3 linked regions of the Homo sapiens genome follow. The protein of the gene in region 1 interacts with the protein of each later gene in a pairwise test. Each region holds a gene or a part of one and is shown on either strand. Other genes may lie near its edges.

The links.
Region 2: the proteins of TTC3 (region 1) and SHROOM2 interact in a two-hybrid assay, tested with the Homo sapiens proteins (one large-scale study listed by BioGRID and IntAct).
Region 3: the proteins of TTC3 (region 1) and ETS2 interact in a two-hybrid assay, tested with the Homo sapiens proteins (one large-scale study listed by BioGRID and IntAct).

What each region holds. Positions count from the first base shown.
Region 1 is NC_000021.9:37,163,656-37,167,351, forward strand, and holds part of TTC3 (E3 ubiquitin-protein ligase TTC3), read left to right. Parts: intron 1-395; coding exon 396-560; intron 561-1,894; coding exon 1,895-2,960; intron 2,961-3,696. UniProt on the Homo sapiens protein: E3 ubiquitin-protein ligase which catalyzes the formation of 'Lys-48'-polyubiquitin chains. Mediates the ubiquitination and subsequent degradation of phosphorylated Akt (AKT1, AKT2 and AKT3) in the nucleus.
Region 2 is NC_000023.11:9,784,843-9,788,638, forward strand, and holds the start of SHROOM2 (protein Shroom2), read left to right. Parts: upstream 1-1,586; 5' UTR 1,587-1,703; coding exon 1,704-1,868; intron 1,869-3,796. UniProt on the Homo sapiens protein: May be involved in endothelial cell morphology changes during cell spreading. In the retinal pigment epithelium, may regulate the biogenesis of melanosomes and promote their association with the apical cell surface by inducing gamma-tubulin redistribution.
Region 3 is NC_000021.9:38,815,929-38,819,484, reverse strand, and holds part of ETS2 (protein C-ets-2), read right to left. Parts: intron 2,478-3,556; coding exon 2,394-2,477; intron 1,061-2,393; coding exon 839-1,060; intron 1-838. UniProt on the Homo sapiens protein: Transcription factor activating transcription. Binds specifically the DNA GGAA/T core motif (Ets-binding site or EBS) in gene promoters and stimulates transcription.

The sequences.
Region 1 (3,696 bases):
AAACCTTTTATTAATACCATTTACCAGTCTCAGTCTCACTTTAAGTTAATTTATAGCAGTTATAATACAATCTTCATTTGTCTTTCAGTCATTTAACAAGTTATAATTAATGCAACTTTTTTTAAAAATATGGAGTTTTAAGAATTTTGCTCTTTGGAGCAAGACTAAATAATTGAAAGTGCTTACTTAGATTGTCAGATATGATATTTCTCGCCTATAACTGTGGAAGGGTAACTTTTCTACACTAAGTTCCCTGGTGCTATTTTTTTGCAACATAGAGCTGAGTAATATATTGCCATTATTGTGTTTATTTCAATTAGACATTCTTCTGGTTAAATAATAAACCAAAGGTCTATCATCCACAAAATTGGGTGTTTTTTGTTGTTATTTACCAGCAATCGAAATTCAGATTCTGCAGGCCCATTTGCAGTGCCTGACCATCTTCGGCAAGATGTAGAAGAATTCGAAGCTCTCTATGACCAACACAGTAACGAATATGTTGTCCGCAATAAGAAGCTATGGGACATGAACCCAAAACAAAAATGTTCAACTCTATATGAGTAAGTGGGTTGAAATTTTTACAACCATTATTTTATACTAAGGCTGCCAATTAAAGATCAGAAGTTGTTTAATTTGTGCCTGTTTTTAGAGATTTTGCCACATTTTACACAAAGTTAATTTAGGATTTTTTTTTTTTTTTTGAGACAGAGTCTTGCTGTGTCACACAGGCTGGAGTGCAGTGGTGCAATCTCTGCTCACTACAACCTCTGCCTCCCAGGTTCAGGTGATTGTCATGCGTCAGCCTCCCGAGTAGCTGGGATTACAGGCTTGCACCACCATGCCTGGCTAATTTTTGTATTTTTAGTAGAGAAGGGTTTCACCATGTTGGCCAGGCAGGTCTCCAACTCCTGGCCTCAAGTGATCTGCCTGCCTCAGCCTTCCAAAATGGTGAGATTACAGGCATGAGCCACCTCGCCCCGCCCTGAGGATTTTTAATTATTAAATTTAGAGTCCTAATGATTATTGATTTTGTCAGTTTGAGCTACTAAGTCGATACTGAGTGGGGTGGATAAAACAAGTAAAAAATTCAGGAAAATCTCAGATAGCTTACCATTTTGAGCTTTGTGTTATTAGATAGTGCATGAGGCCTTCCTTTTAAGAAAATAAATCAAGGGCTGAGGTCTGTAATAGAGTATTAATTTAAAAGCCAACTCTTCTCCTGGAAGTCCTGTCAGTAGCATATCCACCATATGGCCCTTTCTTCTGTTTTCCTGTATTGCATCATTCCTATTTAGTTCTGTGCTCTTAGATCCTTCTTCATGGTTTTTCTTTAGAGTTGAAATGCTGAGCAAATCATATTTCCAGAGAACTCTTGGGTGACAGTGTGGAAACAACTGTAAAATTATACTATTATTTCTTAAAGTATGCTAGAATTTGCTTCAGGCATCCAAAAGTAAAGCTAAAGTATGTAGTTTTCAGTATTTACTGTACGCAAATTCAAATAGGATTTGTTTTTGAGATTTGATTTTCTCTTTTTATTTAAAATTCTTATTGGCATTATTATCTTTCCTGAATAAATTTTTTGTTGTTGTTTTTAGAATAAATTATGTAATTACATAGTTGAAAGTTATGAAATAACTTTTTGATTTCCTTTTGCTTTCCCCTGCTCCCAGAAAAGTTTTAAATGATCATTTTCTAGGAGGTAGACAAAATTTTCTTTATAGTATCATTGATTGCAGTTAACCTTATGTTTGTTATATTTGTTGTTGAGGAAAGGTTGAGATCAGTGAAAAGTGAAACAGTGTTTTCCTTTGGGAGAATAAAAGTTTTTTTCAAATAGACATATTCAAGTACTTCCTTATAGTAACTCATGTAAATGTAAATTTTTTCCAAGTTACTTCTCTCAGTTTTTGGAGGAACATGGTCCCTTGGACATGAGTAACAAGATGTTCTCTGCAGAATATGAGTTTTTCCCAGAAGAAACTCGACAGATACTAGAAAAAGCAGGAGGTTTAAAACCTTTTCTCTTGGGATGCCCTCGTTTTGTTGTGATTGACAACTGTATTGCACTGAAGAAGGTTGCATCACGGCTCAAGAAAAAAAGGAAGAAGAAAAACATTAAAACAAAAGTAGAAGAAATTTCAAAAGCAGGGGAGTATGTACGAGTTAAACTACAACTGAATCCAGCTGCTAGGGAATTTAAACCAGATGTAAAGTCTAAACCAGTGTCAGATTCATCTTCAGCACCAGCTTTTGAAAATGTGAAACCCAAACCTGTGTCTGCAAATTCTCCCAAGCCAGCTTGTGAAGATGTGAAGGCCAAACCAGTATCCGACAATTCTTCTAGACAAGTTTCTGAGGATGGGCAACCCAAAGGGGTCTCTTCTAATTCTCCTAAACCAGGCTCTGAGGATGCAAATTACAAGCGAGTCTCCTGTAATTCCCCCAAACCGGTTCTTGAGGATGTGAAACCAACTTATTGGGCTCAATCCCATTTGGTCACAGGATACTGTACGTATCTTCCTTTCCAGAGATTTGATATCACCCAGACACCGCCAGCATACATAAACGTGTTACCAGGTTTGCCCCAGTACACCAGCATATATACACCCTTGGCCAGCCTTTCTCCTGAATATCAGCTACCAAGATCAGTACCAGTGGTGCCGTCTTTTGTAGCCAATGACAGAGCAGATAAAAATGCTGCTGCCTATTTTGAGGGTCATCATTTGAATGCTGAGAATGTTGCTGGTCACCAGATTGCCTCTGAAACACAGATCCTTGAGGGCTCTTTGGGAATATCTGTAAAGTCACACTGCAGCACAGGTGATGCTCATACAGTCCTGAGTGAGTCTAACAGAAATGATGAGCACTGTGGAAATTCTAACAACAAATGTGAAGTAATTCCAGAAAGCACCAGTGCAGTAACAAACATTCCACACGTGCAGATGGTTGCCATACAGGTAAGAGTTAAATAGAAAAGTCTTCTTAATACTGAAGTTAAATTTTCCTTTTCATTTTTCATTGCCGTTATATTTGCAAGAATCCTTAAAGTTGATTGACTTTATAATGATTACTGAAGCTTTTGCCTGAAAATACTTTTAAAATATGAACTCTTTTGTGAGGCATGACAGGTAATCTTCTCAGAAAGAAGCTTGGGTCCAATAAACAATACCCATCTTTGCTACTGAAATTCTACACAGATTGAGAAATAAGACAGCAGGTGGAGCCAAAACGTCATCCTAAGAATTAATAAAGGTGCTGGAGGAGAAGGTGGCTGTTTGTAGGAAAGTTCAAGTGCTAGCTGGAAGTGTAGCCTGCATCACAGTGCCTTACCTGCCAGTTACAGGAGGGCCCACCTGGAGGCCTTCCAGCGTGGGGTGCCTGCCCCATAGGACTTAGCGCATGAAGGAGGAAGGGAAAATGTGCTGGCAGCTCCTCAGAAAGAGAAGGAAAAAGGAAGACTCTGACCTACACAGGCCCAGCTTCTCCTGTCAAACCAGGGGAGGAATGAGAATGTTAAAAAGAGACAGCCAGGTAGAAACAAGAGGGATGTGTATGAGTTCTTTCCTAACAAGGAAGAGATGAAATCAAGATTCTCCTATGGTTGCCTTTATAGGGTATGAATTCATTAAATCCTTATTGAATTGCCCCACTCATTATGTTTTCTAGGAAGCTTTGAAAAAAATAGGTTAAGAG
Region 2 (3,796 bases), on another chromosome or scaffold:
CCTGTGACCATCACCACAGTGAAGATACACTCGACTTGATTCTGAGAGGCACATTCCTTAAGCCTTCGTTTAATCTTTGAAAAAGAAAAAATCGCCTCATTCTTCTAACTAAAGGCATTCAGAGACTGTAGTTAGAAGTTAATTATGGGGCAGTCACCACGTGCCCAGCGCCATGACAGGTGCCCAGTGGAGCTGCGACTCTGAATTTAATCGGCTGCATGAGACACCTCCACAGAATGCACCCCTCTCACTTGACCTCTGAAGAAACAGACCAGAGCTGAGATTTCTTGTCCCAGCTTGACAGTGGCAGAACCCAGACCCGGGGACCCTTGACTCTCTGTCCAGTGCTCTCCCGGCCTGTCCTGGATGCGTACTCCAGCATCGTCACCTCTGAAAAGGGCCTGGATGGAGCTGCTTAGAGAAAAGAGGTGTTCACCAGCCTTCAGCTACGTATAGAAACAGCAACGAAAACAGCTTTTTTGCAAAGCATGTAAATACCTATCCATGCAGGTACTTTAGACCAGAGTTTCATGGAAACTGAAACCGAGCAGGAAGAGGTGGCACACATGTTGTCCGCAAACTTTCACCAATCCCAGACCTCCACCTCCCCTTTTCGGGGATGTAAACCTGGGAAACTTGAAGACCTTGTGGTCCAATCCTAGGCGAGTGGGGACAGCATCTAGACGCAACGGCTTTCTGCGCGGTGGCTGTGGGAGGCCTCTGCGGGAAGGTGGGAAGGCCCTCGTGGAAACGGGGCACGGTCCTTCTGCGCCCGCCTTCCAAGCCCCTCCAGAGGCCGGACCCGCGCCCGGCTCAGGCTGCTGGGGGGCGCCCTTCCCGGCTCTCTAAGTCCAGAGTGTGAGTGCGCGCAGGGCCGCGCGGGACGGGCGGTCCCTCTGCCCCGGGGCAGCGGCCACAGCGCGGGCACCAGGGCCTCCCGCGGCGCTTCCGCTCTCACCTGCGCGGCAGCCCGCGGTGCGCGAGAACAAAGTGTGGGCGCCGGCGGGCCGCGCGCCCCGAGACGGAGGAGGCCGGAGACTCCCGCCACGCCACCCCGCGCCCATCTCACCTGCCGCCTCACCTGCCCGGTCCTGGCCTCCAACCGGCGGGCGGGGGCGCCCAGAGCTTCGAAGCACTGCAGAGCTCTGGCGCGGGAGGAAAGGCCCGACCTGGCGCCGGGGCCTCCGCCCCCGTCCTCGCCCGCGCTGGCTCCGCCAGCCCCGGGGCGCGCGCTCCTCGACCCCGACCCCGAACCCGCTGAACGGCGCGCGCGCCTGAGCGCCCCTCCCGGCCCGCTCCCCTCCACCGGGCGAGAGAACCGGGGCGCGCCCCTCTCCAGCTCTCCCCGGTACGAGCGGCCGCGTGGGCCCCTGAGCGCGCACCTGACCCCGTCCCTCACCCTTCGGGCCGCGGGCTGGACCTCTGGACGCGCTCCCCGTGACCGGCCCCGCGGTACGAGCTCCCGAACGCGCCCGCCCCGCCCCCCGTCGGCCCCGCCCCCTCCCCGCCAGCCCCGGCCCCGGCCCCGGCCCCGGCCCCGCCCCCTCCCCGCCAGCCCTCCGGGCTCCCTCCGCCGCCGGGCCGGCACTTTCTTTCCAAGTTACGGCGCAAGTTCTGCGGCGCTCGGAGCCTCCCTTGCGATCCCACGGCCGGGACTGCCCGGAGTGCATGGGCGCGGGCCAGGGACGCTGAGCGGTCGCGCCATGGAGGGCGCCGAGCCCCGCGCGCGGCCCGAGCGCCTGGCCGAGGCCGAGACGCGGGCGGCGGACGGCGGGCGCCTGGTGGAGGTGCAGCTGAGCGGCGGCGCCCCGTGGGGCTTCACCCTGAAGGGCGGCCGCGAGCACGGCGAGCCGCTGGTCATCACCAAGGTAAGGCGGCCGCGGGGCGCGGGCGCTGACAGCCGGGAGCTGGCCGCCCTGCGGGGCGCGTCGAGGTAGGGGCGCGGGAGGGGCGGTAGGCTCGCGCCCCCGGGTCTGGCGCGCGCGTCTGCTGGGGTCACCTGCCGGGCCTGGGCGCCGGGACCGGCGTGGGCGTGTGATCCTGGCGGTTCCCCGCGCCTCGCAGAGTTTAAATGGCTCCTGCCCGGAGTCCCTTTCCCCTCCCCCTCCCTCCTCCGGGCAGGGGCCTGGCCGGGTCCTCTGGCGCTCCCGGGCCCGCCAGTGGCGGCCTGCACCTGCGGGGCTGCCTGGAGGCCAGCGAAGGAACGTGTCCCCGAGCCGTCCCCACCTATGTTTGCCTCTCTGGGGTCCCTGGTTCGGCACCCCTTGGACCCGTGCCTGTGATCACTACGAAATCCAGAGTAGCAGCTGTCGCCAGCGCAACTTCTCGATTCCCTTCAGCCCATCAATGTTTACTGACTTTCGGCTTCCAGTCCCAGATCCACTGCGCACTGGATACCTGCGCAAACTTAGAGAAACCTGAAAGCCTGCTTCCTAAGAGCAGGACCCGAGTTCTAATAATAATAAAGAAATTCCAGATGTATCTCATCAGGAATGTTGTGTGTGTGTGTGTGGTTTGCTTTAGAACATTGAATTTTATTGTCTCAAAACAAAATCCATCTGGAAACTTACCAGTTGAACCTGTATGAACTTGTAAAAGCAAACACATAAACAACAGTCCAGTCACCCTGTGTTCTAGTTAAAAGTGTGTAGTGGTCATTTTCTCTGGGAAGGGTTGAGTCGGACCTTTCGTGTGGACGAAGTTCCTTTTAAAATGTAAAGATTCTTGGCGACTAGAAGCGTTTGAAGATAATTTACTGGTTTTCTCGGCTTTCCTGCCTCTCCACAGCAGGAAGAAATTAAGTGATTCCTAACCCGCCGCACTGGTAATCAGTTTGGGAAGTGGGATGGCTTTGTTGTTCAAATAGCAAATGAGACACCAGCGTCTTCCATTCTATATTTTCTGTCGCTTTTATGATTACAAAACTTTGTGGAGGGATTTGGAGAAGCCTTGTTTAGCTTTGCACTAAATTTTTGTTGAACTCAGGAAAGAGGTTGCCATTGTTATAAATTTGACCAATGTGTAATCTTTTATCACACTGGCTTCTTTGGAAACATGGTGGACAGTCATAAAGTGTGTATACTCTGCCCAGCCAGAACACTCCTCTTTTTTTTTTCTTTTATTTCTTTTCTTTTCTTTCTTTCTTTCTTCTTTTTTTTTTTTGAGACAGGGTCTTGTTCTGTCAGCCTCCTGAGTAGCTGGGACCACAGATGTGCGCCACCATGCCTGGTTAATTTTTTAAAATTTTTTGTAGAAACGGGGAGTTTCACCATTTTGCCCAGGCTGGTCTCGAACTCCTCTGCCTCCCAAAGTCCTGGCATTACAGGCATGAGCCACTGCGCTTGGCTCAGAATGTGGATTAATCCAAGCTTTGAATCTTCCTCTCCCAAAAGCTACTGAAAAGTCACTGGGGCTCATTAAAAAATAGCTCTTCTAATCGTTTTTTTTTTTCCACTTGTAATTAAATAGTTACATATTAGAGCCCTGGAATACTGTACAACTCACTTGCTATTTAGCAGACTCTGATTTGGGGATAGCTTGCATTAAGGTAAGAGCGCACCTTCTCTTTATGATAATGAGGGTATCATTTGAAAGCCTCATGGGAGTGCGTGTAGTAGAACTGGGAGGGGTGTCAAGAACAAGGCTGGTTCGGTCCTGGTCTTCAGATGGAATTTTATCAGCCCATTTTATAGATGAAACAGCTGTGGCCCAGGCAGGGCAAATGGTGTATCCTGAGGTCACAAACTGTTGAGTCCTGGGAAAGGCCCTAAGAATCAGACTCTGGCCCCAGTGTTCA
Region 3 (3,556 bases), 1.7 Mb from region 1:
CACATACTTTGATTCCTCCAGGACACAGTTGGTCTTGGGCACGACCATAGCATCACCAACCACTACCAGTGCAATCATGCACCTGCTGGTGTAGAACCACTCAGACTTCTCAAAATGCTCTCTACTCAGGTGCTTATTCCTTAGGGTAACTATACTACACAAATCCTATCTTCCATCAACAGTAGAATGAATAAAATTCTTATAATGGAATACTATACAGCGATGAAAAAGAACACATGGCTGCTACATCCAACAACATGCATGAATCCCAGACATGATGAGTAAAAGACAAACACAAAAGAAAACATGCCTTATGATTCCATCTATGTAAAGTTCAAGAAAATCAAAACCTAATCCGTAATGATAAAAGTCAGAATCGTTCCCTTCTGTCGGGGGGACATTATTGATGGGAAGGGGTACGAAGGAATCTTCCAGGCTACTGGAAACTTCTCTATCTCCATCTGGATGGTTATTACATGGGTATACATACATACACAAATCCAACCAGCCACATGACCTGAGACTTGTGCACTGTATTTATGTTACATCTCCATAAGAAGAAATGTCACATTCCTGCATCGCCTCCATAAATATCCCAAAGTGTGGAGAAATCTGGCTGTAAGAGCAGGGACTGTTTTGTTTACTCAATGCCTGCAGTACCTGGGCCAGTGCCTGAAACATATTAGGGGTATGCTTGTTGGAAATCCACTTAGAACATGGGCTTTGACCCCCTTCTCTAATGGCTGAATCCAGGAAGTATTTATTAAGAGGTTCATTATGGCTCTGGGGTTCTCAGAATCAAAGCAACAGCCTTGTTGAAAGATGCTTCCAATCTTACCAGAATTGTTGGTGAGCAAATTCAAGTTGCTGCCTGGGAAGTCCTGACTGACAGAGCAGTAGGTGACGCTGACGGAGCTGAGCCGAGACTTGGGGAACATCTGAAACTCCTGCTCAGAGCTGAGTACGCTGGGTGTGGAGGCCGGACACATGCTGTCCAGGAGGCCGCCTTTGGGGTAATTCTGTGTCTGCATTCCATAGGGCGCCTGCTCTGTGCCAAAACCTGGAACAGAACAATCGGACGGCAGAGCTCTTAAAGTCAGTGTTACCCCAGTAACTAACCCCTACGAGCAAATGACAGGTGAGCACTCCGCACACTCCAGCCCTCTGCAGAACCTCAGTGGAGACCCGGGCTTTGGTGGGGGTCTGTCACCAGGCCTTCTTCTCAAACCATTCAGCTTCTCAACCAGCAGCCCTCTGCCAAAATGACTGCAGCCTCTGCAGGCAGGACTCAATGTTCCTATTTCTACAACCCTAGTGCTTTCATGGGACCTTCAGGAAGACAGGGCTCACTGGCTCTTTTAGCTTCCGAGGAGAGTAAGGCTCAGACAGACCAAGTGACGTGTCATGTACTGTGTGATTCATAAGGGCAGAACCAGGCCATGAACCCTGTGTGCTGAGGCACAGCCCACTCTGCTTTCTGCTCCTTCATCACACCGCTCCTGTCTCTGTTCATTGCAGAATAATTTATTTTCTGGAGAGGGAAGGAAGCTCTCTGACTCTGATTCAGGTTCAGGCAGGCACAGGGTGTCCCACTGTCATGTTCAGAAAGACCTCCTGAGCAGGAAGCCCCCAGTGGGGCAGAGAGGTGGGCTTCACCGGGTCTGAATGGTGGAGCTGGGGCCAGAGAGAAAACACTGGGCCGGACCAACACCACCCAAGCCTGCTGTTCCGAGGACCCCTCCCTCGCTGGCCTGGCCAGACCCTGTGCCCTCCCCAGTATCAGCAACCAGAAGAAAGGACCCAGATTCCATGACAGCTCTTTAAGCTCCCAAGTTCAGAGCCAGTTTACAAATTGCTTTTCACGCACTCTGTGCCTGCCGCCTCTTGTTTGCTACACTAAACCAACATTACTGGTGACTGCGGTAATCAGCTCACTTCGTTCTGCTCCTTGCTCTAAGAATTGCCTGGACTAGCACTAACAGTGCTGACCTATGGAAGATCGTGTGAGCCACTTAAGCAACTGCGAAAGTTCTAGTGGCCATATTAAAAAAGCAAAAAGAAACAGGTGAAGTTAATTTTCTTATTTTACTTGGCCTCATATAGCAATTATCATTTCAATATGTAATCAATACATTAAAAATTATCAGGGAGACATTTTATATTCTCTGTTTCATACTAAGACTTCCAAATCTGGTGTGCATGACTATACTCTTCCTACACATCTCGATGTGGACCAGTCACATTTCAATGGCTTATAGCTCAACACCCACGTGTGGCCACCATAAGAGACACACAGGTCTAGGTGGCCCCTTAGGAGCCTACAGTAGAGAGATTCCAAGTCTACTGGGAAGACTGAAGACAAAGTTCTTAAGGGCAGAATCAATCGGACTGACCTAATGTATTGCTGTTAATCCAATGAGGAACGGAGGTGAGGTGTGAATTTTCTTCATATTGATCTTCTGTCTTTTCTTGGTTTTCTGAAAAGCAGACACAGGAGACGTAAGATGGCAGATGTAGGTGAAAACTACACAGAACAAATTGACTTTCTGAATTCCTGTGAGATGATAATTTTAGAATGATGAGATGCACGGAGTGCTTCACATTTAATCTCATGGTGCTCCACGTCCCTGCCTGTCTTTTTCAAAAAACGAGAGAAAGCAACCCATTTTTCCAATTACTAAAATAAATTTTCCAAAATGAATGATGTCATTGGCAACACTAAATTTTCTATCGCAAAAGGTCCAGATGGTGTATTGAATTCATTCATGCATTCAAGAAACAGTTAAGTATTTATGAAATGCCATCTGTACCAGAGGCTGCATACAGGAAATTAATAAAATGGATGGTGTCTGCCCCCGTGAAGCTTACAGTTCCACTGCTTCCAAACCTGCACGCTTCCCCAGGGTGTGGGAAGTCTCCAGGGCTGTGGGAGTCTGGGATGGGGAACACATGTGCCCAAGAACTTTGAAAGGGAAAAGGTTTGTGCACTGTGTATGCATACTTACTACGAATATATTACAAAGTGCACGTCCACCCGGAAACCCAAATACACACAAACTCACAGGCCCGAGGAATGGTAAAACAGGCCCAATTTGCCAATAAACAGATCACCAGAAACTTGGTAGAAAAGCCCTGTCCAAGTTCAGAAGAAATGAGGGTCTTTAAAAATGAGTTTCCCTGGCCCTCAGACGCCGTAACTAAAAAAAGTTAGCTGTTGAATCCTAGGTGTTTTCGAGATTCTGAGTCTACAGTTGATGCTGAAATTCAGTGTGTTTAAAATCAGTCAGGTGAGGACTAGTTCCCTGAATTCTATAAACATGCTTATTTTCTTATATTTTTTTAACCTAAATAATCCCTACTGTATTTTATTTCTTTCCCTCCCTCCCTCCCTCCCTCCCTCCCCTCCCTCCCTCCCTCCCTCCCTCCCCTCCCTCCCTCCCTCTTTCTTTCCTTCCTTCCTTCCCTCCCTCCCTCCTTCCTTCCTTCCTTCCTTCCTTCCTTCCTTCCTTCCTTCCTTCCTTCCTTCCTTCCTTCCTTCCTTCCTTCCTTTCAACAG